4 linked regions of the Homo sapiens genome follow. The protein of the gene in region 4 purifies or fractionates together with the protein of the main gene of each other region. This does not show direct contact. Each region holds a gene or a part of one and is shown on either strand. Other genes may lie near its edges. The genes, in order: YME1L1, CFAP410, NEK1 and ODAD4.

Region 1 (7,030 bases), on a different chromosome or scaffold from region 4:
TCAGGGAAATGGTTGAATGAATTGCACTGTGATAAATTGGAAAAGTGTAAACAGCCATTAAACTGAATGCACTGTTCTGTTCTGAAAAATATGCACGAAAAATGAAAATTGCAAAAAATTAGGTACTATTTCTAGAGTAGTTTTTATAGAAAGAGCACCTGTGTGCATGCATACAAGGGTAGTCAGAATTGTTAACAGGTTATACTTCTGGGAAGTGGGATTGGGGCTTGAGAAATTAGAAGACACTAATTTGATACACTTACCCTTTTTTCAAAAACATTATGTAATTACCAAAAACATGTAAAAATCAGTTGTGTAGATTCAATCTATTTTAATTACTTGGTTGGGTTTTTTTTTTTTTTTGAAATCACAGTTTATCAGAGTTGATACTCAGTTTTTTAAATTATATTGTATAACCCTCTGACTTCTCTATTTACCTTTATCCCCTATCAACATAAAAAATAGGCCAGGCGCGGTGGCTCACGCCTATAATCCCAGCACTGTGGGAGGCCAAGGCAGGTGGATCACCTGAGGTTAGGAGGCTGAGGCAGGATAGTTGCTTGAACCCAGGAGGCGGAGGTTGCAGTGAGCAGCAATGCCTTGCACTCCAGCCTGGGCAACAAGAGTGAAACTCCATCTCAAATAAATAAATAAATAAATAAATAAATAAATAAATAAATAAATAAAGTTCCTTTTGAAAAAAGGAGGATAGAAAAAACTATAAGCTGGGCATGATAGATTTAAGTTCTCAGACCTAATCCCAGCTCTTTGGGAGGCTGAGGCAAGAGGACTGCTTGAGCCCAGGAGTTCAAGGCCAGCCTGGGCAATAAAAGGAGACCCCGTCTCTACAAAAAAGAAGGAAACAAAGGAAAACGTATTGAAGTGTCAGGCAAATTAGATAGACTAGGATATACAGGTAGGGTGTCAGACTTTAGAATCTTAGGCATTTTTCTTTTCCTGTAACAATTTATAGTGACAGTGAATGGTATTGTTTTATTTAGTTTTCATACAGTCTCGGGGTTTTAAAACTTTGAAATCAAGGACACGACGTCTCCAGTCTACCTCCGAGAGATTAGCTGAAACACAGAATATAGCGCCATCATTCGTGAAGGTAATTAGACCTTTTTATGATCCAAAAAGCAAATATTTTCAAGTTGTTAGAGTGAGGAGCTTCAATATCTGATTTCTTTTGTTGGCTGATAGATATTCTTCCTTCTTTCCACTAATAATAAGGGATTAGTAACCTGTGTAATCATTATACCTCTAACTCTTCTGGGCACCAGACTTGCCTCTCCACTTACTAGATTTTTTTCCCACAAACCTACACCTGTCGAGGTGTTCTCTGTATTAATGAGCAGCATCCACCCAAGCTAAAAACCTGGCTATCAACCTACGTTTGTCCATGTTGCCTTACCTCCCACATCCATTAACCACTAAAGTCCTGTTGATCCAACCTCCTAAATATTTCTTACATCTGTTCCACTGCCATAGATAGGCTATAACTATTTGTTGCCTAAATTACTGTAATGAATACTTGTTTAGTCTCCTTGCCTCTAGTCTTGCTGCGTTCAGTCCAGCCTCCAGACTGCCACCCATCAATCTTTCTAAAATAATGATCTAGTTATATTACTCTGCTTTATTGCTTACCTCCACCTGATACACTGGGAATTTCATCATTTGATCTCTACCTGCCATGTTTCTCTTCTCACCATTCAATATGCCCCTCTGTTTCCCTGCTCCTCTCTTGGCATTGAAGTCTTATATAAGATTGCTTACAGTTCTTGAGCACTGAAGGCTATTGATTCATGCCTCCGTCAGATTGTTCATAGTGTTTATTCCCTGTGTTTTAGATGTCCTATTCTCTGTAAGGCCTTTTCCATATTCCTGAGGTAGCATTGATTTACCACCATACATAATACTTCTAACATAATATCAAAATGATTTAAGAAACTTAGTTATTTATATATCTTTTTCCAGTAGACTGAAAACTTTAAGATCAGTGGTTTATTTATCTTTACATCTTCAGAACTTATATAAGGCCAAGTATATGAACGGTGCTTAGTAGACATTTAGTAAATTAATGAGATTTTTTCCTCTAGCAAAGATAGAGGGATATGAACATTAAGCCAATCAAACCCTAAAATAATATGTGACCTGTTTTCAGTGTAGTGTTCGTGCAGAGAATAATGCCACTTTCTTTATATTATTAATTGATTGATGCAGGAATGGGATCTAGTGTTAGTTTCCTAGTTATTGATTAATTCATTGCTGAGTCTTAATCTGTTTCTTCACATTGACAGTAAAAATTATACAGAATTTTAGTGAATTTTTTTGAGTGGTCACAATATTGTTGGGAAGTATCACTGTGTTGTTAACCAGTACTGATGTGTTGTTTGTGTATTCAGGGGTTTCTTTTGCGGGACAGAGGATCAGATGTTGAGAGTTTGGACAAACTCATGAAAACCAAAAATATACCTGAAGCTCACCAAGATGCATTTAAAACTGGTTTTGCGGAAGGTTTTCTGAAAGCTCAAGCACTCACACAAAAAACCAATGGTAAGTTGAATTGACACCATCCGTGTTTGAGAAGAGTAACTGAAAGGAAGTCATAGTCCTACATTTAAGTTTTAAGTAACTTTTCTAAGACCATCTATTGATTAAATTCCACTATATTTGTAACTTAATCTATGTAGAAATGGCGATACTGCTGATGGTTTCCCTTTCTCAAGAGAGAAAACAAATTGGAGAACAGGAAGTGTGAATGGCTTCATAAAGGTTTTTGTTTCTTTATTTTTTGTTTGTGTTTGTTTTTGAGACACGGTCTTGCTTCATTGCCTAAGCCAGAGTGCAGTGGTGCAATCATGGCTCATTGTAGCCTTAACTTTCTGGGCTCAAGTGATCCTCTCACCTCAGCCTCCTGAGTAGCTAGGATCACAGGCATGTGCCACCACGCCCAGCTAATTTTTGTGGAGATGGAATCTTGCCCTGTTGTCCAGGCTGGTCTTGAACTCCAGGGATCAAGTGATCCTCCTGCCTTGACCTCTTAAAATGCTAGGATTACAGGCATGAGCCACCATGCTTGGCCTTAAGTTTTTGATAATAGGGTACTTACAGGAAATCATAGCAGTTGTGAGAAAGAATGCCAGATTCCAAAATTGGATGTGATGAAATATGATTATTAACAATAACCTAATATTTGCATTTCATTGAGCTGTCATATTTCATAAATGTGATTTCATGTAAAGCTTTTTCTTTCTCTCCTAGATTCCCTAAGGCGAACCCGTCTGATTCTCTTCGTTCTGCTGCTATTCGGCATTTATGGACTTCTAAAAAACCCATTTTTATCTGGTAAAAGCTTTTTTTATTTGTCTAACTTATTTCTTATTCCTTTAAATACATGATTCCTTTTAATGCCTAATCTAACCCTTAAAGAAAGAACATATTAATGTTTACAGTACTAGAATTAGGCTTTCATTCCTAGTAGTGGTTAGTTTCCCAGATTTTTAGAAAATGATACCTGTCCAATTATAAAATTTAAAAATTATCCTGGTCAACAGGGTGAAAGGAAAATTAATTAATTAATTTTAAAATTATGTAGAAGAATTTTATAATGGCAATACAAGCTGAAATAGTCTTCTATTTCAAAGATAAACAAATTCAGTTTATTCATAAAATCACATTAAATGTTTCCCTTTTTTTTAGTTTGCTTATCTGAAATTAAGCAATAGTGTCAGACTTACGTGGTTCCAATTACCTTTTCCACTACTGTGCAGTTTTCACCCTGTGTTGCCTATTCTCTTAAATATTAAGGATATGTACAGATTCTTAAAAAATACTTTGTGGGCCAAAACTATTGGTGTTCATTCTAGAATTACTATTTTAAATTTGTTTTCCCAGCTTCTATGTTCCTGATTTATTAAGCATTTCTCCTTAACCCCATATTTTGCCAGCTCATTTTTCAGCCTATCTTAACAGTATTTTGGGCTTCTTCTGAGGAAATTAGAAATTGCTCAATTTACTCATTTATAACTGCTCTAGTTTGGAAGTTTCTACCTGAGTGGGAAAGACTTAAGAAATCCTTGTAATAGTTCTCCAAAATTGATCTCAAATATTTTACTCTCCTATCAGACTTTTTCTGTCTTGCTTGTCAGACTTAATGTTGTCATAATTGATAGGTCATTTGAGGGCAAGTAATAACAGTTGTCAGAGGAAGAAGACTACATGAAAAGTATAATAATGTGTTAAGCCTCAATTTTTTATTAATGTGTGTCAATGTTTTCTGCTAACTTTAAGGCAATGTGTTTCAAAGTGTAGACCTGTGACCAATTAGAATAATTGAAGTGTTTGTTAAAAATGAAAATTCTCCTGGGCCCTGTGCTGTGGCCTGAGAATTAACATACTTCTCAAGTGAGTTTTATTCACACCAAAGTTTGAGAAACTTTGATTTAAGATTTCTATCATTAGATACTACAATAAGAAGTAGAAAATAATTTTTGATTTTATTAACTGAAAAGTACAAATAGGTCATTTTATTTTATTTTTTTATTTTATTTCATTTATTTTTTTTGAGATGGAGTCTCGCTCTGTTGCCCAGGCTGGAGTGCAGTGGGGCAATCTTGGCTCGCTGCAACCTCCTCCTCCTGGGGTTCAAGCAATTTCACTGCCTCAGCCTCCCGAGTAGCTGGGACTACAGGCTTGCGCCACCATGCCCAGCTAATTTTTTGTGTTTTTAGTAGAGACGGCGTTTCACCGTTAGCCAAGATGGTCTCGATCTCCTCACCTTGCGATCTGCCCGCCTCAGCCTCCCAAAGTGCTGGGATTACAGGTGTGAGCCACCACGCCCAGTCTTTATTATTTTTTATTTTTTCAAGTTTATTAAGAAAGTAAAGGAATAAAAGAATGGCTACTCCATAGGCAGAGCAGCCGAAATATGTCTTTTTAACGTGAATCACTTACTCTTTGAAGATGGTTTAGAAATCCAGAAGACCAGCCGGGCGTAGTGGCTCACGCCTGTAATCCCAGCACTTTGGGAGGCTGAGGCGGGTGGATCACCTGAGGTCAGGAGTTCAAGACCAGCCTGACCAACATGGAAAACCCTGTCTCTGCTAAAAATACAAAATTAGCCGGGTTTGGTGGCGCATGCCTGTAATCCCAGCTACTTGGGAGGCTGAGGCAGGAGAATCGCTTGAACCTGGGAGGTTGAGGTTGCAGTGAGCCAAGATCGTGCCGCTGCACTCCAGCCTGGTAACAGAGCAAGACTCTGTCAAAAAGAAAAAAAAAGAAATCCAGAAGACCTAGTTTCTATTCCTCACTCTGATTTGATATGTGAAGTTAGGTCACTTAGACATTTAATTTTTCTAGGCTTTGCTTTCTTGCATCTAAAAAACAAGGTGATTGGAATGTTATTAATCTATCAAATATAAACATTTCTTTTCTTCCCTTTAGTCCGCTTCCGGACAACAACAGGGCTTGATTCTGCAGTAGATCCTGTCCAGATGAAAAATGTCACCTTTGAACATGTTAAAGGGGTAAGTTAAGAAGATTGCCTTGCCTTCTTCATACATCCTCTAATTGATACTCTATATGAGGTCGATATTTGATTCTACAGTGTATTCTAGAATAGGTAAAATTGTGTCCAAAAGTATTAGAAACATTAGTATTTTGGGATAAATAATAATAGCCAAGGATCAAATCTTGCTTTATGGCAGGGGATAGTATAATTTATGAAGGAGCAGCCTGGTGTAGTGGAGTGAATGTGGACTTCAGAGTCAAGCTGACTAATGTTTGAAATTCATTTTTATACTTATTAGCTATGAGACCTTGAAGAAATTACTTTAGATCCTGACAGATAATGTATGTGCTTGACACATAGTAGATATTTAATAAATGGTCCTTCTTTACCTGTACCTCTTACTGATCTTTGTAACTCCACTATCTAAAACATGTTAGACAATGTATATTTCTTGAATGAATAGAATGGATAAATGCTAGTTTATAGTTGATTAATTTGTTAAATATTTAATAGTATTAAGTGCTAGGCCCTATTTTAGCTGCTGGGATAGAATAAATAATCTCTGCATTCTTAGAGTTTAAACTCTAAAAGCAGTAATTGGACACTGATATGTGATGTAAGAAAAAGTAGAGTATGTTAAAAGAATAAAAGTGTATGGAGGAAAAAGTAGAGCAGGGTAAAGAGGATTGGGAGTTTTGAGAGAAGGCTTACAGTTTTAAATGGAGTGTTCAAGGTGTGATTGATGGAGAAGGTGACATTTGAGATAAAATCTGAAGGAGAAGATGGAATAAACTGCATTTATCTGAGAAAGGAACGTTTCTGACCAAAGGAACAGTTTGAGCAAAGGCTCTCAAGTAATAGGGTGTCTGACTTGTTCATTTTTGAAAGTAGAACTAATAGGATTTCTTATTGGAACGTAGGGTGTAAGAGAAAAGAGGAGTCAAAAAGAGCCACAAGATTTTTGGTCTCAGCAATTAGAAGGATAGAATTGACATTTACTGAGATTTTTGTTTTTGTTTTTGAGACGGAGTTTCGCTATTGTTGCCCAAGCTGGCGTGCAATGGCGTGATCTCGGCTCAGTGCAACCTCCACCTCCCAGATTCAAGCGATTCTCCTGCCTCAGCCTCCAGAGTAGCTGGGATTACAGGCACGAGCCACCACGCCCAGCTAATTTTTTGTGTTTTTAGTAGAAACAGGGTTTTACCATGTTAGCCAGGCTGGTCTTGAACTCCTGACCTCAGGTGATCCACGCAGATCAAAGTGCTGGGATTACAGGCGTGAGCCACGGTGCCCGGCCTTTAGTGAGGTTTTAAAAGGCTGTGAGTGGAGCAGATCTGGGGGACAAAGGTTAGAAATTTAGTTTTAGGTATGTTAAGTGTGAGAGATACGAATGAAAGTGTTGAGTAACTTGGATATACCACTTTGGAGGTATGGGAGAGGTCTGAGCTAGAATTAAAAATAGGAGATTATATTTATATGTATGTTAAGTCCACATGTTTGGATGAGATCACCCAGGGA
Region 2 (6,865 bases), on a different chromosome or scaffold from region 4:
TGCTGTCTCATGCCTTCCTAAAAAGTAAAAAACCAAGCTGTGCCCCGACCACCTTGGACACATGTTCTCAGGATTTCCTGAGGGCTGCGTCACGGGCCATGGTCATTCATATCTGGCTCAGAATAAATCTCTTAAAATATTTTACAGAGTTTGACTCTTTTTGTCAACACCACGATATAGAAGGTTAAATAAAACCCATCTGATGAGAATTTATGGTTTGTAGGGCATGACTGTCCATGCCCTTTAGGAATTTGGGCAAGATAAAAAAAGAAAAATCAGAGTTTAGTCCTCAATTACTTCAAGGCCGAGAGTGAGTTCTGGCCTTGAAGTAATCTTGTTGGAGACAGAATGAGGTGTCCGGTCCCTTTCAGGAGCTGACCCCTGAAGCTTCCAAGCAAAGAGATGACCAGATAAGTGAGCATGGTGTGTGCTTAACAGGCATCCAGGTAAACTAAATGTGCATAAGGCCTGAGAGCACAGGATGGGAACGGAGTGGAGGTTCACATTCCCAGGCTGTATTTCAAGATGGAAGGTAACACAAGCAGCTTGTCTCAGTTACATCTTCAGACTAGGGTGGAGGAGGAGGAAAGGGGAAAGGGGAAAAAGTTTTAAAACATGGTTTGAGGCTTAGCTGTGTGAAAGGAATATAAAGCTCAAGACCTTAAAATCACTAAGTCAAGGGAAAAGTCAGCTGGAAAATGCATCAGGCAAACCTGCCTCCAATTTTATTCCTAAATAAGATCGCTACAAAGATAAAAAGCTATGAAGCTCCCTCACAATTTGCCCACAAGGAAATTCCTTGTGGGCCTCAAGATCTTTACCCTCAAACAGTTCTGTTGAATTTCACCCTGGAATGTAAACTGATAGCTGATCTTCACAGGTGTGGGACAGGAGGTCATCCCCCTGCTCACCGGAGACACATGCCTATCTGTTTGCTTTCTCTGCCTTATTGTTTATGTAAAAATGCAGATTTACTAAGCTAGACCAAATTGTGTATTCAGTGAAAGGACTCAAAAGAATGCAATCTTTTGTCTCTTATCCACCGATGACCTGGAAGCTGGAAGCCTCCCTCCACCCCCACAACCCCACCCGGCCTTCAAGGTGTCCTGCCTTTCCAGACTGAACTAATGTACATCTTTTTTTTTTTTTTAAGACGGAGTCTCGCTCTTGTTGCGCAGACTGGAGTGCAATGGCACAGTCTCGGCTCACTGCAACCTCTGCCTCCCGGGTTCAAGCGATTCTCCTGCCTCAGCCTCCAAAGTAGTTGGGATTACAGGCGCCCACTGTCAGGCCTCTGAGCCCAAGCTAAGCCACCATGTCCCCTGTGACCTGCACGTACACATCCAGATGGCTGGTTCTCGCCTTAACTGATGACATTCCACCATAAAAGAAGTGAAAATGGCCTGTTCCTGCCTTAACTGATAACATTGTCTTGTGAAATTCCTTCTCCTGGCTCATCCTGGCTCAAAAGCTCCCCTACTGAGCACCTTGTGACTCCCACTCTGCCCGCCAGAGAACAACCCCCCTTTGACTATAATTTTCCTTTATCTACCCAAATCCTATAAAACGGCCCCACCCTTATCTCCCTTCACTGACTCTCTTTTCAGACTCAGCCCACCTGCACCCAGGTGAAATAAACAGCTTGATTGCTCACACAAAGCCTGTTTGGTGGTCTCTTCACATGGACACGAGTGAAACCCACCACCGCGCCCAGCTAATTTTTTGTATTTTTAGTAGAGACAGGGTTTCACTATGTTGGCCAGGCTGGTCTCGAACTCCTGACCTCAGGCCATCCACCTGCCTCAGCCTCCCAAAGTACTGGGATTATAGGCGTGAGCCACCGCGCCCGGCTTAATGTACATCTTATACATATATTTTTTCTTCTTTTTCCATCTTACACATATTGATTGATGTCTCATGTCTCCCTAAAAATGTATGAAAGCAAGCTGTGCCCCAGCCACCCAGGGCACATGTCATCAGGACCTCCTGAGGCTGTGTCATGGGCTTGTCCTTAACCTTGACAAAATAAACTTTCTAAACAGATTGAGTCCTGTCTCAGATATTTTGGATTCACAGCTGCTAAGCTGCTCGGTTACAATTGAAGGCTCATGGGTTAGGGGTTGTTCAAAGGTAGTTTGGTGAACAGGGGGCTAGGGCATGGGGAGTGCTGATTGGTTAGGTGCGAGATGAAATCTAGCTGTCCTTTTGGTCCTTTTGTGCTGCATGGCTTCTGGGTGGGGCCACAGGAGCTGTTGGCAAGACATTTAGCTGGATCCATCCGTGTGAGACATGCAAGAAACCTGCAAAGGTACAATAGTGATGTTACCTGCAGGAGTAATTGGGGAAGTAGCTTATCTTGTGACCTCCAGAATAATGGCTGACGAATGTTTACATCTGCATCTTAGTGGAATTCATGCTCCTCTATCCTTCTAGGCTGGTAGTGTAACCGCCCAATGGGTTCGCCTTGCCCACTGCCTAGACAGAACCGATTTATCAAGGCAACGGAATTGCAATGGAGAAAGAGTAATACACACAGAGCTGGCTGTGCAGGAGAGCAGAGTTTTATTATCACTCAAATCAGTCTCCCCAAGCATTCGGGGATCCGTGTTTTTAAGGATAATTTGGCGGGTATGGGCTCAGAAAGTGGTGAGTGCTGATTGGTCAGGTCGAAGATTAAATCATAGGGGGTCAAAATGAGTTCTGGCTGACTTCTGTCCCTGGGTGGGATCACACACATGGTTGAGCCAGATTATCCGTTTGGGTGGTGTCATCTGCTGCATCTGAATGCAGGGTCTACAAAATATTTCAAGCACTGACCTTAAGTTTTGCAACAGTGATGTTATTCCCAGAAGCAATTTGGGGAGGTTCAGACTCTTGCCGCCAGAGGTTGCATGGCCCCTAAACTGTAATTTTTAATCTCGTAGCTTAATTTGTTAGTCCTACAAAGGCAGACTGGTCCCCAGGCAAGAAGGGTTTTTTTGGGAAAGGGCTATTATCAATTTTGTTTCAGTTTAATCTATAAACTAAATTCCTTCCCAAGGCTAGTCTGGTCTACACCCAGGAATGAACAAAAGCAGCTTAGAGGATAGCAGGAAGATGGGGTGGGTGAGGAGATCTTCCCCTGTCATAATTTCTTCAGTTATGATTTTTGCAAAGGCGGTTTCAGTGGTCTCATTAGCTTTACAAAGGCTGTTTAGTTTTGAGGAAGGGCTGCTATCACTTAAACTATAAATGTCTCCCAAAGTTACCTTTGCTTATCCAGGAATAATTAAGGGCAGTTTTAAGGCCAAAGGCAAGATGGGGGTTGGCCAGATCTCCTTCAAGGCCAACCTTCTCTCACCGATACAATTTTTTGCAAAGGCGGTTTCAGAACGTCAGAACGCCTGTCTTAATGTAACTGTGGCCCATGTAACGATGTTTAGAGGGTCTTATCTGATTTCTAAAAGGTTGAAATGCTTGTAAGGGCTCTGCTGGACCTGCCCGTGCGTCTTTCCTATAAATGCGTCTTTTCTGTAAATGCTGGGAGGGAGGGAGACAAGGAATCAACACAGCCCCAGGGCTGCCCTGGGTTTATTCCAAGAGTTTGAATCGCGTAACTTGGAGCTGTGTAGCGCCCATGCCATCCACGCTAGGCCTGCGCTCAGAGTCAGGCCTAGGCACTCGGCCATGATGCGCGTCGGACCGAGCCCACCCCGCTCGGTTCCTGGGAGCAGCAGTTCAGCCCTCACTGGGCCGACTCGGGGACCGCCACCTGCACCCACCCTCTGCTCGCTGCGCGCTTCCGGGGTCGCGTTAGAATCGCGTCAGAGAAGGGCGCCCCAGGCCGCGCATGAGCAGGAGCAGAGCCAACGTGTCAGCGGCGCCCAAGCGGCCCCAGCGGGCTCGCGTCGCCCCGCTCTCCTCACCGAGCCGCCAATCGGCTCAGGATCCGCCCCTGACGACGCGGGCCCCGCCCCTGGAGACACGCGCCGCGCAGTCGTCACCCGCCCGGGATCAGGAGGCCGGGGGCGCCCGCCGGTCGGGCCTGGGCGGCCGCCATGAAGCTGACGCGGAAGATGGTTCTGACCCGGGCCAAGGCCTCGGAGCTGCACAGCGTGCGCAAGCTCAACTGCTGGTGAGGCGGGGCCTGGCCGCGGCCGCCCCGGGGTGGGGGGAGGAGCCGGGGCGGGGCGAGGGCGGAGCCGGAGGGAGGAGCCGGGGCGGGGAGAGGGCGGAGCCGGAGGGAGGAGCCGGGGCGGGACGAGGGCGGAGCCGGAGGGAGGAGCCGGGGCGGGGAGAGGGCGGAGCCGGGGCGGGGAGAGGGCGGAGCCGGGGCGGGGAGAGGGCGGAGCCGGAGGGAGGAGCCGGGGCGGGACGAGGGCGGAGCCGGAGGGAGGAGCCGGGGCGGGACGAGGGCGGAGCCGGAGGGAGGAGCCGGGGCGGGACGAGGGCGGAGCCGGAGGGAGGAGCCGGGGCGGGGCGGGGCGGGGGCGGAGTGGAAGGGGGGAGGGGCAGGGGCGAGGGCGGCGAAGGAGCCGCGGGTGAGGGAGGGGAGGAGGCCGGGGGTCGGGGTCGCCTGGGCCCCCCCCCATTTCCCGGCCCGCCTTTGCCCCGGGTGCCCTGTGGGCTGGGTCTGTTGTCTGGGGTTGCCAGCAGTCACTGGGACCAAGTCGAATAGGAGAGAGAACTGAGCTTTCCAGGACTGAGTCAGGAAACACGTTGGTAATCAGTACTGGGGGCGGCCGTTCCCAGGGTACTCCTAGCAGGTGACAGGAAGGGACGTGGGTGCGGTGGGACCCAGGCAGGCTGAAAGGCAGGTAATGCTGAGTCTCACTGAGCCAAGGAAGACCAGGAGCTTCCAGAAGAGGGAGCCTGGAGTTGAGGCCTGCAAGATCTCCAGGGTTCCCTGGGGACTCAGCAGAGTGACCGCGCCGTGTCAACTGGCCTCACCGTGCAGGCGGGTGTGGGGGTCAGCGAGAGCAGACGCTTCCTCCCAGGGGTGTCCGCAGACTGCCCAGAGTGAGCTCTTCCCTGTTAATTAAAAAGCTTTTCTCTCTGCCCTGGCATATCTGGTGTTTTGGCTACAATTCCCGTGTCATTTGCTTTCAATAATGCATTTCTTTGTTTTGCATGGGGTGGTCAGTACTCCCACTAAGCTGGGAGAAACAACAACCCTGTTTCAGGCTTTTAAAGTTTGCTTCATAAGTTGCCTGTTCACCCTTTGAACTTGACCTCTTATAAAGACGCCCTTGTTTATGTCTGTCAGTGAGAGAAATGAACCTTCTGCTACTCAGGGACCATGAGGAAGAGTTCATCTTTTTGTGTCTTACAAATGGAGCAACCCTGCTGCTCCTTATCTAAAAAGTACCACCCCAACGTCAAACATACAGTTTAGTTGAAAATCAGCTAAAACAATTGTTTACACCTTTGCCAGTTATCTGGGCAACCTTCCTTTTTTGCCATGCCATTAAAATCCTAGAATCTTAAGGTTTGTAGGGAGTCATCGGTGATTTTTGGAATTTTTGTCTTCAGTGTTTTTTATTCAACTTTAACAAAATTAAAGTATGTATCTTTTCTCTCCCCAGGGGCAGCCGCCTCACAGATGTAAGTATTGCCTCACAGATGTAAGTATTGCACTGATCATCTCCAAATAGCCTCAACCCAAATGTTGTAGCTTCTTTCCCAAGAGAATTTTTAAGTTGACAAAACTGCACCTATCAATTCAGTCCCACACTTGGTACTTTGTTCACTTAGCGGTTTTCATTCTGCAGAACCACTAATGGAAAAACAATTCTCTAGTGCCAGGCTTATTTTGCAGTTCCCGTCAACATCCCTATAAATGAAACACCCTTTGTCACTTGGTCGCAGAGGAGGGGAGCAATAGTTTGGAACTTGCTCTCACCTGGAAAGGAATCCCAGGAGGGCTTGTTTTACTTTGTTACGGGGAAGTTGAAGGTCTACACCCCCTCTTCTTGGTCACATCTAGCCTTGTACCCCCTTGCCGCTGCCCCAAAGGCAGGCAGAGAATAAGCCCTGCTGGGAGAACTTGAGTGTGTGCGTCTGTGAAAGATTTTTTTCTTCTCTCCCTCATTGTCTTTCTCAGTCCAAAATGTCCCCAACTTACACAGGGATCGCATACCAATTGTTTCTTTCTTTTTTTTTTTTTTTTACACGGAGTCTCTCTCTGTTGCCCAGGCTGGAGTACAGTGGCACGATCTTGGCTCACTGCAACCTCTGCCTCCCGGGTTCAAGCAATTTTCCTGCCTCAGCCTTTGAGTAGCTGGGACTACAGGCACCCACCACCATGCCTGGCTAATTTTTGTACTTTTTAGTAGAGATGGAGTTTCACTGTGTCGGCCAGGCTGGTCTCAAACCCCCTGAGTTCAGGTGATCCACCTGCCTCAGCCTCGCAAAGTATTGGAATTACAGGTATGAGCCACCATGTCCAGCGCAATTATTTATCTCTTTATTTTCCTTTGTTTTTTTAATTTGAACTGTACCTTTTCTTAAAGACAAAAAAAAGCCTGGATACGTGGCATCTGGGTGTAATCTGTTTTGTGCTGTAACTGAAATACTGCATGTTTAGCAGTGAATATACAAACGTACCATGTCCATAGACACGAGTCACTTATACATGGGACGCATCTGACCAGGCTGTGAGCTGCTGGTGCCATGCCTGGCGTATGGTGGGCTCTCACATATGTGGGAGCTTTGCAGGTTGTGAGGCTTTGTGGACCACCCCGGGCACCTCACCCCTGAATTGACAGTACCAATGTGATCTGAGATCCAGTCTCAAGCCTGTCTTCCTTTTGGCCTAGACCTGTTATCAAGAAGGGATTTCCATCCTTTCCTTGCTTTCTATCCCTGCGTAGGGGACATTGGGGTC
Region 3 (7,030 bases), on a different chromosome or scaffold from region 4:
AGATTTGTTGATGGTCAGACTTGCCCTTCTAGAATGTAAGCTCCACAAGAGCACATATGTTTCTGTTTTGTTCCTATATCTCCAATTCCTAGAACAATGTAAGAAATATAGATTCTCAGTAATTATCACCGAATATATAAATCATTAAGTCAGATTTTCTCAATACTCTCGCTAAATGCCTAAGAGATGTTTCTGAGACACTACCCTGGTTCTCATCAAGAATTATTCATAGTAACAGATTAATTTAACATGGTATACAGAGTTAAAGTAATGCAATTTAAATATGTATCATTAGTTCCCTCTCTCACACTATACACTTTTGTAATAAAAATCCTTGCTATTAAGGCTGATTAGTTTGATTAGTTTTCTCTGCTCTTCACATTTCACTGTGAGAGGGAGGCACTTCTATTCGCCCAAAAGGAAAATATATAGAATTCTTTCAGCTTCTCTCAATTCTTCTAAGTGTTCATTTTTTTCAGAGTGGTTAGTCTATAAGTTTACATATGTACTAGACCTAAATAGGATATTAATATACTACTATACATACTTTCAGTTGTAGAGAAGGATGTATCTAGTGTTAACTCATCCAGAGGAATCACAAGTTGACCTCCTGCCTCCCACTTCTTGCGATCAGATGAAACTGATTTTTCTTTTTCATGCTCTTTGGCATCTTCATGAACATTTATCTCAAAAGTATCAGAGAGATTCTGCTTTCCTTTTTCATCTTCTTGAGCTTTAAGATTTTCATTTAATCTACGAAGTATTTCTCGCTTACTCTGAAAGTCACGACATTATATATTTTAATATGTATATCATTAAGTAAAATGATTGATAAACTTTGAAAATTTTACTTACTGAAATAGCATTGTTGGTCTTTTGCATCTCTTCTGAAGTTTCCCGGGTATCAGTTAAACTACTGTCCTTTAAATGCAGATAGATACAGAGGAAGAGATAATTTTATTTTTTTAAATCTACCTTTAAAAATATTACATCCTCGTTACTTTTTGGTTTTCATTAATTTGTTCCTTGTAAATTTTTTATTCCTATAAAATGTTAACAAAGCTTCCTTCATTATCAGCAATGACTAACCTTTAAATATTATTAATTAGACAACATAGACAGGGGCCAATTCTCAATTATTTGTCATATTTTTAGATTACTGCTCACATAATTAACTATATCCTCTTCCTCTTTGGTACCTGATTTTTTGGTAATTTAAGTCAGAAAATTAGAGGAAAAAGTAGAAATTAGAGGAAAAAGTAGAAATTAGAGGAAAATTCATATACTCTCTTAATTATAACTAGAAAAAGTTTTGATAGATGAAGTAATTCAAAATAGGCTGTGTTATTCTAAAACTGTCTTTATGTTTCATGTATATATATCCTTGTTAAGCCATAGTACTAAATGTAATTGAGAAGTGGCTTTCCTCCCTAAACAAAGAGTGTAACAAAAATTAGTTCTGAGTCATTTGTACTACAAATGACATAAATGTTATCTCCTAATTAGCATTGTCAAAGCAATCCAGACTATCTAAAATTAAAAAACATACGAAAAGAAGAAATTAGCAGTTACGAAAGCTATGAAAGCAAAGGCATGTAGAAGATTCAAAGAACAATTTTCTAAGTTTTAAGTAAGTGACATTTACCAACACAACACAGAAAGAAAACCGTTCAGTTATATGGATTACCTCGAATTTTGTAATACTTAAAAAAAATTAAAAATTTGGTGGTCAGTTTCAAAGTAATATATGAAGCAATGAGACAAAGAACATTTTACCCAGTAAAGTAGTCAGGAATTAGCAGTCCTACAACCAGAGAGATGAACAGCTATTGAGATGTGAGACTGGGTACCAAGGAGGGACCACACAGTGGTATCTAAAGTTGGAGTAACAACGTGGCACACGCAAAGTCGTTATCAGAAAGAAAAAGTGACTAAGCCTACTTGAAGAACAATAGTTTCTTACATGAAGTTCTTGAGAATGATCAAGAAACTTATATTTTCCTACTGAGTTTTATTTTCAAAATCAACCCAAAGGCTATAAAAAAAAACAGCTAGTGTACCAATTTTGTCTGCAAATATTTACTGAAACTAAACAAATAAAAAGCACAGACATCCATTACCAGGAAAGGGGAAAATGAAGTTATTATGTTATCTGATTCAGTAGACTTTTCTCCTCCTGTCTGTTGAATTCTAGGCCGCAGCTCCACACTATGAGCCCACTTCTCTTAACCCCTGAACAGTCTTCACACTTCAGACAGATACCTGAAATATACTTCTAAGTTTAAGCTTTTTATTTGTCTATGTTTCTTTGTTTTACTATCTGTAGGGCATGACAGAGATTCAGAAGTAGAAGGTAAAAGGAATAACTGATGAATTAACTAGTTCTACTGAGTCCTCTAACATTTGCCATGTCACAAAATTTGAATAAATGTAAATATGTGTTGGACCTAATACCTAGAGCTACTTTAGCACCAAAGAGACATTATTCTTTTTAAAGTGAACATTTGTTAATCATGAGGGTTGGGTAGAAAAATGTTTATAGTATTATTTTCAGTACATTTCTCTGTATATTTTATTTTTTCAATATTCTTTTAAAGTAATATAAGAGTTATTGTGATATATTTTCATCTACCACGTGGTCCTAGATATAAAACTTATAAACAATGAGGCTCCAGTATTCTGAGTAAACTAAAATCCCTTAAAAAGTAATTTTTTTCCTTAGAAAAACCTGAAAGGGACATTAGGGATTAATGTGATTTCATTAAATTTAATTTCCTTTTAAATAATCTTTTGACTTTGAGGAGTTCTGAATCTTAGGAAACTTACCACGCCAACTTCTTTCAAAGCTGAAGTTACAGAAATAACAGATCTCATCTGTTGCTTTGATGGAGAGCCACCTGTTTCATGCTGTCCCAAAGGTGGAGAAACATCAGAACTCTTAACTCCTTTAGCCACCAACTATAAAAAAGGATTTTATTAAATACATTAGGGATTTTATATTTGTATGAAGAAATAAAATGGTACCTACCAGATCACTATTTATCCACTCTATCCACAAGTAGTTTTTTTCATTCCTGAATTATCTGTTGAGCAAGGCATTATGATGCTACATGCTGGGGATACAGCAGTGACTAGAGAAAAAAATCTCTGGTCTCAGATGTACACATAGTCATGTCACATAGTCCTAAATAACCCGCTTTCATTGCATTATCAATGTTTCATGAAATGATCCTGAAAAACTGTCTTTTAAAGATTCAAGTGTAAGATTTTGTTAATCTTACACTTCTAAAAGAAATGCTTTTGTAATTCCTGCAGGTTTGGGTACAATCTTCTCAAAGTTCAAATATCAATTACTCAACATAAGAGCCCTCATAAAAATGCCAACATAAATGAGAATGGAAGGAGAAACAGATCCAGGTAATAAGATTTACTTCACTGAAAACATCATGTTGTATTAACATATGTGCTTGTTTTTATGTTGCCATTTAAACTCTAAACAAAGTAAGATTATGAAACCTGAATTAATACAAGGAAATGACATTTATGGGTATGACAATAGTAACACAGCAGGAAGTTTACTCCCTACTCCCTATTCCTAGTCTTCCTCAATCTAGGAAACAAGACTTTCTGGGGAGTATACATTTCAAACACAATATTTATTGAGTATCTTCTAAAAATACAGTAATAATACAATCTTAATATTTAGGCTTCTAGACCTTCACTTTACAACAATACAGGCATACCTCTGAGATATTACGCACTTGGTTCCAGACCACTGCAATAACGGTAATATTGCAATAAAGTGAGTCACACAAATTCTGGGGTTTCTCAGAGCATACAAAATTTATGTTTACACGATTCTGTAGCCTATTAAGTGTGCAACAGCATTATGTCTAAAAAACAATGTACACACCTTAATAAACACCTCATTCCTAAAAAAAAAAAAAAAAAAAAGCTAATGATTCTTCTGAGCCTTCAATGAATTGTAATTATTTTGCTGGTGGAGGGTCTTGCCTTGATACTGATGGCTACTGACTGATCAGGGTGGTGACTCCTGGATGTTGGGGTGGCTATGACAATTTCTTAAAATAAGACAAAAATGAAGTTTGCTGCATCCATTGACTCTTTCATGAAAATATTCTTTTGATTTTGTAAAAATATTTTTAAAATTCTTTATTATTTAAATAAAGATGAGGTCCACTATATTGCCTAGGCTGGTCTTGAACTTCTGGCTTCAATGACTGTCCTGACTCAGTCTCCCAAAGTGCTGGGATTACAAGCGTAAGCCACTGTGCCCAGCCCATGAAAATATTTATCTGCAGCATGTGATGCTGTTGCATTTTACCCACAGTAGAACTTCTTTCAAAACTGGAGTCAGTCATCTCAAACCCTGCTGTTGCTTTATCGACTAAGTTTACAAAATATTCTAAATCCCTTATCATTTCAACAATGTTCAAAACAGCTTCACCTTCGTAGACTCCACCTCAAGAAACCACTTTATTTGCTCCTCCATAAGAAGCAATTCCTCATCCATTCAAGTTTATCATGAGATTGTAGCAATTCAGTCATATCTTCAGGCTCCCCTTGCCATTCTACTTCTCTTGCTATTTCTACCACATCTACACTGACTTCCTCCACTGAAATCTTGAAGAATGGAGTCAACTTCTTCCAAACTCCTGTTAATGTTGACATTAACATTAACATGACATTAACTCCATGAATCAAAAAAGTTCTGAATGGCATCTAGAATGATGAATGATGAATACTTTTTAGAAGGCTTTCAATTTACTTTGCCCAGATCCATTAGAGGAACCATTATCTATGGCTACAGCCTTAAAAAAATGTATTTCTTAAATAAGAAGACCTGAAAGTCAAAATGACTTCTTGATACATTGGCTGCAGAATGGATGTCGTGTTAGCAGGCATGAAAACAACATGAATCTCTTTGTATAATACATCTCCATCAGAGCTCTTGGGTAACTAGGTGCCTTGTCAATGAGTAGTAATATTTGGAAATAATTTTTTTTTTCTAACCAGTAGGTCTCAACAGTGGGCTTAAAATATTTACAGCAAACCGTGCTGTTAACAGATGTGCAGTCATCCAGGCTTTATTGTTCCATTTATAGAACACAAATAGAATAGATTTAGCATAATTCTTAAGGGTCCTAGGAGTTTCAGAATGGCAAATGAGCACTGGCTTCAACTTAAAGTCACCAGCTGCATTAGCTCCCAACAAGAGAGTCAGCCAGTCTTTTGAAGCTTTGAAGCCAGCTATTGACTTCTCTTTAGCTTTGAAGCCAGGTATTGACTTCTCTTTAGTTATGAGAGTCCTAGATGGCATCTTCTTCCAATAGAAGGCTGTTTTATCTACACTGAAAATCTGTTGTTTAGTATTACCACCTTTATCAATGATCTTAGCTATATCTCCTGGATAATGTACTGCAGTTTCTCCATCAGCACTTACTGCTTTACCTTGCACTTTCATGTTATGGAGGTGGCTTCTTTCCTTAAACCTTATGAACCAATCTCTGCTAGCCAACAATTTTTCTTCTGTAGCTTCCTTATCTCTCCTAGTCTTCACGGAATTGAGGAGAGTTAGGGCCTTGCTCTGGATTAGGCTTTGGCCAAAGAGAATGTTGCGGCTGGTTTGATCTTCTATCTAGACCACTAAAGCTTTCTCCATATCAGCAAGAAGGCTGTTTTGCTTTCTTTCTTTCTTTTTTTTCTAAGAGATGGGGTCTTGCTCTGTCACCCAGGCTGGAGTGCAGATCCAGGCACAATAATAGCTCACTGCAACCTTGAAATCCTAGGCTCAAATGATCATTCTGCCTTAGCTTCTCAATGTGGTTGGGACTATAGGTGTGTGCCACCACATCCAGCTAATTTTTCTTTCTTTCTTTCTTTCTTTTTTTTTTTTTAGAGACAGGTTCTCACTATGTCATCCATGCTAGTCTCAAACTTCTGGCCTCAAGCAATTCTCGTGCCTCAGTCTCCCGAGTTGCTGAGACTACAGGCACCTGGCTGTTTCGCTTTCTTATCATGTGTGTTCACTGGAGTAGAACTTTTTTTTTTTCTGAGATGGAGTCTTGTACTGTCGCCCAGGCTGGAGTGCAATGGGGTGCAATGGCTCAGTGAAACCTCCGCCTCCCTCCTGGATTTACATGATTCTCCTGCCTCAGCCTCCTGAGTAGCTGGGATTACAGGCACACACCACCACGCTCAGCTAATTTTTTGTATTTTTAGTAGAGATGGGGTTCACTATGTTAGCCAGGCTGGTCTCAAACTCCTGATCTCATGATCCACCTGCCTCGGCCTCCCAACATGCTGGGATTACAGGCGTGAGCCACTGCACCTGGTCTGGGGTAGCACTTTTAATTTCCTTCAGGAACTTTTCCTTTGCATTCACAACTTGGATAACTGGCGCAAGAGGCTTAATTCTGTGCCTATCTCAGCTTTCAATATGCCTTCATCACCAAGCTTAATCTTGATTTCAGGTGACAGACATGCAACTCTTTTACTTGAATACTTAAGAGGCCACTGTAAGTCATTAAGTGGCCTAATTTCAATATTATTTTGTCTTAGGGAATAAGATCTGAGGAGTGAGACAGGGGAACTACCAGTCAGTGGAGCAATTAGAACACACACATTCATCAATTAAATTTCCCATCTTATATGGGTGAAGTCTGTGGTGCCTCAGAACAATTACAACAGTAATATCAAAGATATAATGACAATAATGAAAAAGTTTGAAATATGGCAAGAATTACAAAAATGTGACACAAAGACACAAAATGAGCAAAAGCTGTTGGGAAAATGACACTGATAGACTTGCTTGATGCAGGGTTGCCACAAACCTTCAATTTGTAAAAAATGCAGTATTTATGAAGCACAATAAAACAAAGTATGCCTGTATTTATTTTGTTCAAAAAAGGATGGAAACATTGCTTTAGTCCCATAGTTCAGTATTATTGAAAAAGTATACTGATATTTAAGATGTTACTACAAATAGGCCGGGCGCAGTGGCTCACAC
Region 4 (5,417 bases):
CCTGAGTACCAAGAAAACTGGAAGTCGAACCCGGAGCCCCGGGTCCTCGTTTGCAAGACGCTTCCTCCCGAGGGGCCCCGACACTCGTTTCCCGCCCTGGTGCTACCCCGTGCCCGGCCCCGCCCGGCCTCTCACCATGATGAGGAGGGGCGCCACCGTCGCCGCCTCTGCCGGCACCAGCGCTCCGGGGCCGCCCGCCTGCGCGGAGGGACACGGGAGTCCAGCGGTGGCACGACCCGAGCCCGGCCGCTTTACATAGCCCGGGGGGCGGAGCGGGCACCCGGGCGGGCTGGGGGCGGGCCGTCTCCTCTGCGCGCAGGCGCTGCGAACCAAAACCCGAAACTCTCGCCGCGCGCGGGAACCTCGGCCCGGTCCCGCCCCCTGCGCGCGCCTGCTCCCCACGCGCACCCACCCACTGCGCCTGCGAGCTGAGCGGCCACTAGCTTTTTCTGCGTGTTGAGGGGTAACTCAGTCACCCTCCCCGGTCCCGTGGATTAGCAGGAAGTGAGTGAGGCAGGGTCGTGCAAAGTCGGATCCTGTCTTTAATTTTTGATATTTTATTCATCATGGACTTTTGCATTAATTAAAAACTTTTTTTTTTACCACATTGGATTAAAATATTATCATGCAATTTGCTGGCATTCCGGTAAACTCTGCATCTGAAATGCCTCACTGGCCTCATTCGTCCAGGCCCTGTGCCAGCCGAAAGTCAGTCTCAGCCCCGACCTTTCCTTCTAGGAGCTGTGGAGACAGACCAGGATGGCAATGGCCAAAGGGACAGATGAGTAACGGAGTGAAATCCTAACATCCTCTGAGGCCAGATCCTCAGCTGCCACCTCCTCTGTGAAACCACTGAGAGCTCCGTTGGATTTTTGAGTTTCCTGTCCAAGTGCTGTGCTAAGCACTCAGTCCTCGCAGCAACCCCTGAGGCAGGTATCCCATTGTTCAGAGGAGAAGCCAGCTTGGAGAGCCTGATTTACCTGATTATGCCACCCAGAGGTGTCAGAGGCGGAGTCTGTCTGCCCTCCCGACTCCCAGGCCACTCCCCTATCTTTGGCCTCACTCCCAGCATTCGCTTGGTTCTGGCTTGCGGCATTCTCCTACCTGTGACAGCTGGGGCCGCCCCACCACTGTTCCATCCATAAAGCCTCCCCGCTGTCCTGCGCACTGGAGGGACTCAGTCAGTCACCGGTGTGTGGGAAGCACCTCTCCTCCCAGGCCTTCCCCTCTCCTCCCTGTGACTTCTTGTTCCCTGTAGCGCCCGTATCTTCACCCTCCTGAAACCCTTTCTTCTTGGCACCTTTCTCATTTCTTCCACGATGCTCTTCCAAGAATGGGCAGGGGTGAAGAGGCAAAGTGACAGACTCAGGGTTTGCAAGAGTGAAAGACACCTATTTAATGGCAAAATAGTGATGGAAAGCAGCAGAAGTAAAACCCTCATTTTTCCTATAACAGACAAATCGCTTGAAAATCCAGTTTAATAAAATCCCATGATCCCTCTGAACACCAGCTTCCTGATCCTCATCTCTACCGATGGCTTCATTCATATTCCTTTTCCATCTCATTTCCTGTTTTTTTCGTTTCTCCTATTTCTCCAAATTGTGTTTTTCCCAGTTCTTCTGGCTCTCTTCTGCCCACTTCTGAAAGTTTCTTTAGTTCTTCTGGTTCCTGTCTGCTGAATTCTCCTGAGAGTCTTTGCTCTAATTCTCCCGAAGGCCTCCTATAAATTTCTCTTGACTCTCTTCTGCCAGCTTCTAGTAGCTTCCTGCCTGTTTCTCCTGATCTTGTGCCTAATTCTCCTGACAGGCCCTTGGCAACTGCTCCCAAATCGCTTCTGGCTTTTCCTGCTTCCACACTCTGCTTTCCGCTTGCTGGGCTCTGCAGAGCTTCCCCAAAAGCCTCATCGTCCTCATCTGTCTCTTTCTCATCCTCACTATGGTCCCACTGCTTCACCACCTTCTCGGGCTCATCTCTCACTCTCCTCATGTCCTTCTCTCTTGTTATTATTCTATCTTCATACAGTGAAGCTTCTGAAAAATAAGAGAAAAGCGGGAAGAAAGATAAAAGTTTGTTCATGTCAGGCCGGGTGCGGTGGCTCACGCCTGTAATCTCAGCACTTTGGGAGGCTGAGGCAGGCAGATCCCTTGAGGCCAGGAGTTCCAGACCAGCCTGGGCGACACAGTGAGACCCTGTCTGTACTAAAAATACAAAAATTAGCCAGGCGTGGTGGTTGGCGCCTGTAGTCCCAGCTACCCGGAGGCTGAGGCAGAAGAATCGCTTGAGCCCAGGAGGTTGGGGCTGTGATGAGCCAAAATCCAGCCACTGCACTGCAGCCTGGGTGACAGAGCAAGACCCGTCTCCAAAAAAGAAAGAAGAAAAAAAAGAAAGAAACTGTTCATCTCTGTGGAGGCCTGTGCTTTTGAGAGGCCGATGAGAGAAAGGCCCTGAGAATGACTGTTTTTGCCAGCTCTTTAAATTGGTGTTGACAGCACACCTTTCCAAAAGCAGAGAAAGGGAACCATCATTGACTGAGCCCAGCTCCGTCCTGTGCATCACGTGAGGGCTGTATAGCTTATCCCATCCAGACATCATGAAAATGCGCACTGCCGTTGATTTGAGTTTGCAGTCAAGGGACCTGAGATCGATAGAAAAGAAATCACACGGCCGGGCGGCATGGCTCACGCCTGTAATCCCAGCACTTTGGGAGGCCGAGGCAGGTGGATCACCTGAGGTCAGGAGTTTGAGACCAGCCTGGCCAACAAGGTGAAACCCCGTCTCTACTAAAAATACAAAAATAAGCTGGGCATGGTGGCAGGCGCCTGTAATCCCAGCTACTTGGGAGGCTGAGGCAGGAGAATCGCTTGAACCCAGGAGGCGGAGGTTGCAGTGAGCCAAGATTGTGCCATTGTACTCCAGCCTGGGCAACAAGAGCAAAACTCCATCTCAAAAAAAAAAAAAATTAACCGGGAGTGGTGGCACAAGACTGTAGTCCCAGCTACTCAGGAGGCTGAGGCAGGAGAATCACTTGAACCTAGGAGGCGGAGGTTGTAGTGAGCCGAGATCGCGCCACTGCACTCCAGACTGGGTAACAGAGGGGAGACTCCATTTCAAAAAAAAAAAAAGGCACAGTGGCTCATGCCTGTAATCCCAGCACTTTGGGAGGCTGAGATGGAGGTTGCAGTGAGCTGAGATCGCGCCACTGCACTCCAGACTGGGTAACAGAGGGGAGACTCCATTTCAAAAAAAAAAAGGCACAGTGGCTCATGCCTGTAATCCCAGCACTTTGGGAGGCTGAGATGGAGGTTGCAGTGAGCTGAGATTGCACCACTGCATTCCAGCCTGGATGACAGAACAAGACTCCGTTTCAAAAAAAAAAAAAAAGAAAGAAAAGAAATCACACAATGGTCACACTGCAAGTGTGCAAGTGAGACAGAATTTGAACCCAGGACAGTCTGACCCCAGAACACCTCTTTTCCCTGCAAGAAATAGCATAGGTGCTGGAAAATGACAGAAGGATTTTCTCCAGCATCTTCATTCTGACACTTTCTCTTTGTCCCTGGGAAGCACATTCATTATTTGTTGGGAGGTTTCCTATGAAAATATAGAAAAAACATAAGGAAAAAGATAGGTTTCCTATAAAGATATACGCTGCTAACAAAAAGTTCAGCTGAAGAGTTATTTTACAAGCAAAGGGATCCTTGCTCCTAAATTTTTTTTTTTATCAGTTATGGAGAAAAGTTACATCCCCTTCTGCGTCTCCCTTACATTCTCCTCCTGGAAACCACTAGTTACTGAGGTATCTGCAGAGGGTCTCAGGTCTCAGGGGGTCACAGCCCTTTGGTGGTGAAAACAGATGCAATGCTGCCACCTGCTGTTCTGAGAGGGACGTGCCCGGCAGTTCTCCAGGCACAAGGACGCAGGCCAGGGTAGGGAGACTGGGGTGTTGGCTGCTTCCCCGCAGAGTCTCTCTCCACAGCTGTTGCTCCTGTGGCTTCTCAGAGCAGCTCAAAGGGCATGTGGGGGCGGAGACAGAGCCCCTCTGAGGGGGTCCAGCCACCACAGAGCAGGTGCTGGATAATAAAGGGCTGTCATCTGGCTGCTCAGGTGCCCAGAAACCTCCCGCTGCCCTGCCTGGACCAGAAAGGATTTCAGCCTTGCAGCCTGGAGGGCTGCAGCCAAGAATCTGCATTGGGCTCTGTCCTCCCGGACCTCCAGCCCCAGCTCTGTTCACTGCAGTCTGGCTGGAGTGAGAGCTCCACAGACTGGGGCAGGAAAAGGCTGTCTGTGTCACTAGAAACAGTGTGGCACGGGCCGACGCGTGGGTTCTAGAGCAGACTGCCCAAGACTGAAAACCACTGTAGCCTCTAACCCCTCTGCCTCCATGTCCTCCATAAAGTCAAGCTAATAACACTTCCTTCATAGTGTTCCTGAACAGATACAGATAGGATGAGTCCGTGCACACAGTCTTTGAAAGAATGCCTGGCCTGCGGGAAGCATGAATGGGGGTCGGCTACTGCGCTTAACACCCCTGTTCCTCTAGGCCCCTCTCCAGTGGGGTAGGGCTGCTCAGCCATCTTCTGCTTCTCCTTCCCTCACTCCCTCCCTGCAGGAAAGGAGAGCCCAAAGGCAGGGGGCCAAAGGCCTGTTTACTCCCTGGAGACCTTGTGAGAAAGAATGTGGTAAGGCACAGCTGTCAGGCAGCCTCTGCACCTTATGCCCCTCTGCACCTGCCCATCACACTGCTGGCCCGAGAGCAGCGCCGCAGGTGGGGAGAGTGGGGCCCCGAGTCACCCCTCCCTAGCTACATGACTCTGGCAGAGCACTCACCTCACTCAGCCTCCCTTTCCCCCCACAGCACCTACACCTCCTAGTGGGGTAAAGACCCAACAAGATCACTCCTGTCTGGTGCTTAACCCAGTGCCTAGCACACAGTAAGAGCCCCCAAAGTGTAGCTACTGTTATTCTGTCTCTGTGCCTCTGGCCCTGCTGTTCCCTGCTGGAAAAATGCCTTTCTTCTCCCACTTCTCTCCTGGAAAACTCCTGGGCATCTTTTGGAGTTGGAGGTAGAAGATTTTTCCTCGTCGAAGCCTCCTCTGCCTCCCCAGAGGAGCCCACGCCCCGTTGCATGCACCCTCATGGCAGCACACCTCCACCTCGGTGTAGCACCTGTGTGCAGGATCCCAGCAGCTGACAACTCCACTGGTCAGCCTTGCCCAAAGGGCCATGGGCTCCTCCAGGGCAGGGATGGGCCTCTCTCCCCAGAATCTAACACCTTCCAGGTACATGACAAGTGCTCACCATATACTTGATGAATCAATTGAAGAGAGAAATGAGTGCGCTCTGGGGCCAGACAGTCCAGCCCATGGTGGGCTGAATCCTCACCCTCTACTGCCCCAGAGATAGGCTAGGGCTGCTGG

The links.
Region 1: the proteins of ODAD4 (region 4) and YME1L1 purify together in Homo sapiens (affinity purification with mass spectrometry; 2 studies listed by BioGRID and IntAct, with this or other methods). This does not show direct contact.
Region 2: the proteins of ODAD4 (region 4) and CFAP410 purify together in Homo sapiens (affinity purification with mass spectrometry; 2 studies listed by BioGRID and IntAct, with this or other methods). This does not show direct contact.
Region 3: the proteins of ODAD4 (region 4) and NEK1 purify together in Homo sapiens (affinity purification with mass spectrometry; 2 studies listed by BioGRID and IntAct, with this or other methods). This does not show direct contact.

Annotation. Positions count from the first base shown.
Region 1 is NC_000010.11:27,130,357-27,137,386, reverse strand, and holds part of YME1L1 (ATP-dependent zinc metalloprotease YME1L1), read left to right. Parts: intron 1-1,001; coding exon 1,002-1,111; intron 1,112-2,405; coding exon 2,406-2,556; intron 2,557-3,264; coding exon 3,265-3,348; intron 3,349-5,445; coding exon 5,446-5,528; intron 5,529-7,030. UniProt on the Homo sapiens protein: ATP-dependent metalloprotease that catalyzes the degradation of folded and unfolded proteins with a suitable degron sequence in the mitochondrial intermembrane region.
Region 2 is NC_000021.9:44,336,367-44,343,231, reverse strand, and holds the start of CFAP410 (nuclear encoded mitochondrial protein C21orf2), read left to right. Parts: upstream 1-3,841; 5' UTR 3,842-4,037; coding exon 4,038-4,114; intron 4,115-4,529; exon of another isoform or gene 4,530-4,799; coding exon of another isoform or gene 4,800-4,998; intron 4,999-5,564; coding exon 5,565-5,583; intron 5,584-6,311; exon of another isoform or gene 6,312-6,408; intron 6,409-6,865. UniProt on the Homo sapiens protein: Plays a role in cilia formation and/or maintenance. Plays a role in the regulation of cell morphology and cytoskeletal organization. Involved in DNA damage repair.
Region 3 is NC_000004.12:169,476,577-169,483,606, forward strand, and holds part of NEK1 (serine/threonine-protein kinase Nek1), read right to left. Parts: intron 2,959-7,030; coding exon 2,827-2,958; intron 1,805-2,826; coding exon of another isoform or gene 1,796-1,804; exon of another isoform or gene 948-1,795; intron 922-947; coding exon 856-921; intron 777-855; coding exon 548-776; intron 1-547. UniProt on the Homo sapiens protein: Phosphorylates serines and threonines, but also appears to possess tyrosine kinase activity. Involved in DNA damage checkpoint control and for proper DNA damage repair.
Region 4 is NC_000017.11:41,961,606-41,967,022, reverse strand, and holds the end of ODAD4 (outer dynein arm-docking complex subunit 4), read right to left. Parts: intron 2,031-5,417; coding exon 1,540-2,030; 3' UTR 520-1,539; downstream 1-519. Other genes in the region: CNP (2',3'-cyclic-nucleotide 3'-phosphodiesterase), read right to left, coding at 136-138. UniProt on the Homo sapiens protein: Component of the outer dynein arm-docking complex (ODA-DC) that mediates outer dynein arms (ODA) binding onto the doublet microtubule. Plays an essential role for the assembly of ODA-DC and for the docking of ODA in ciliary axoneme.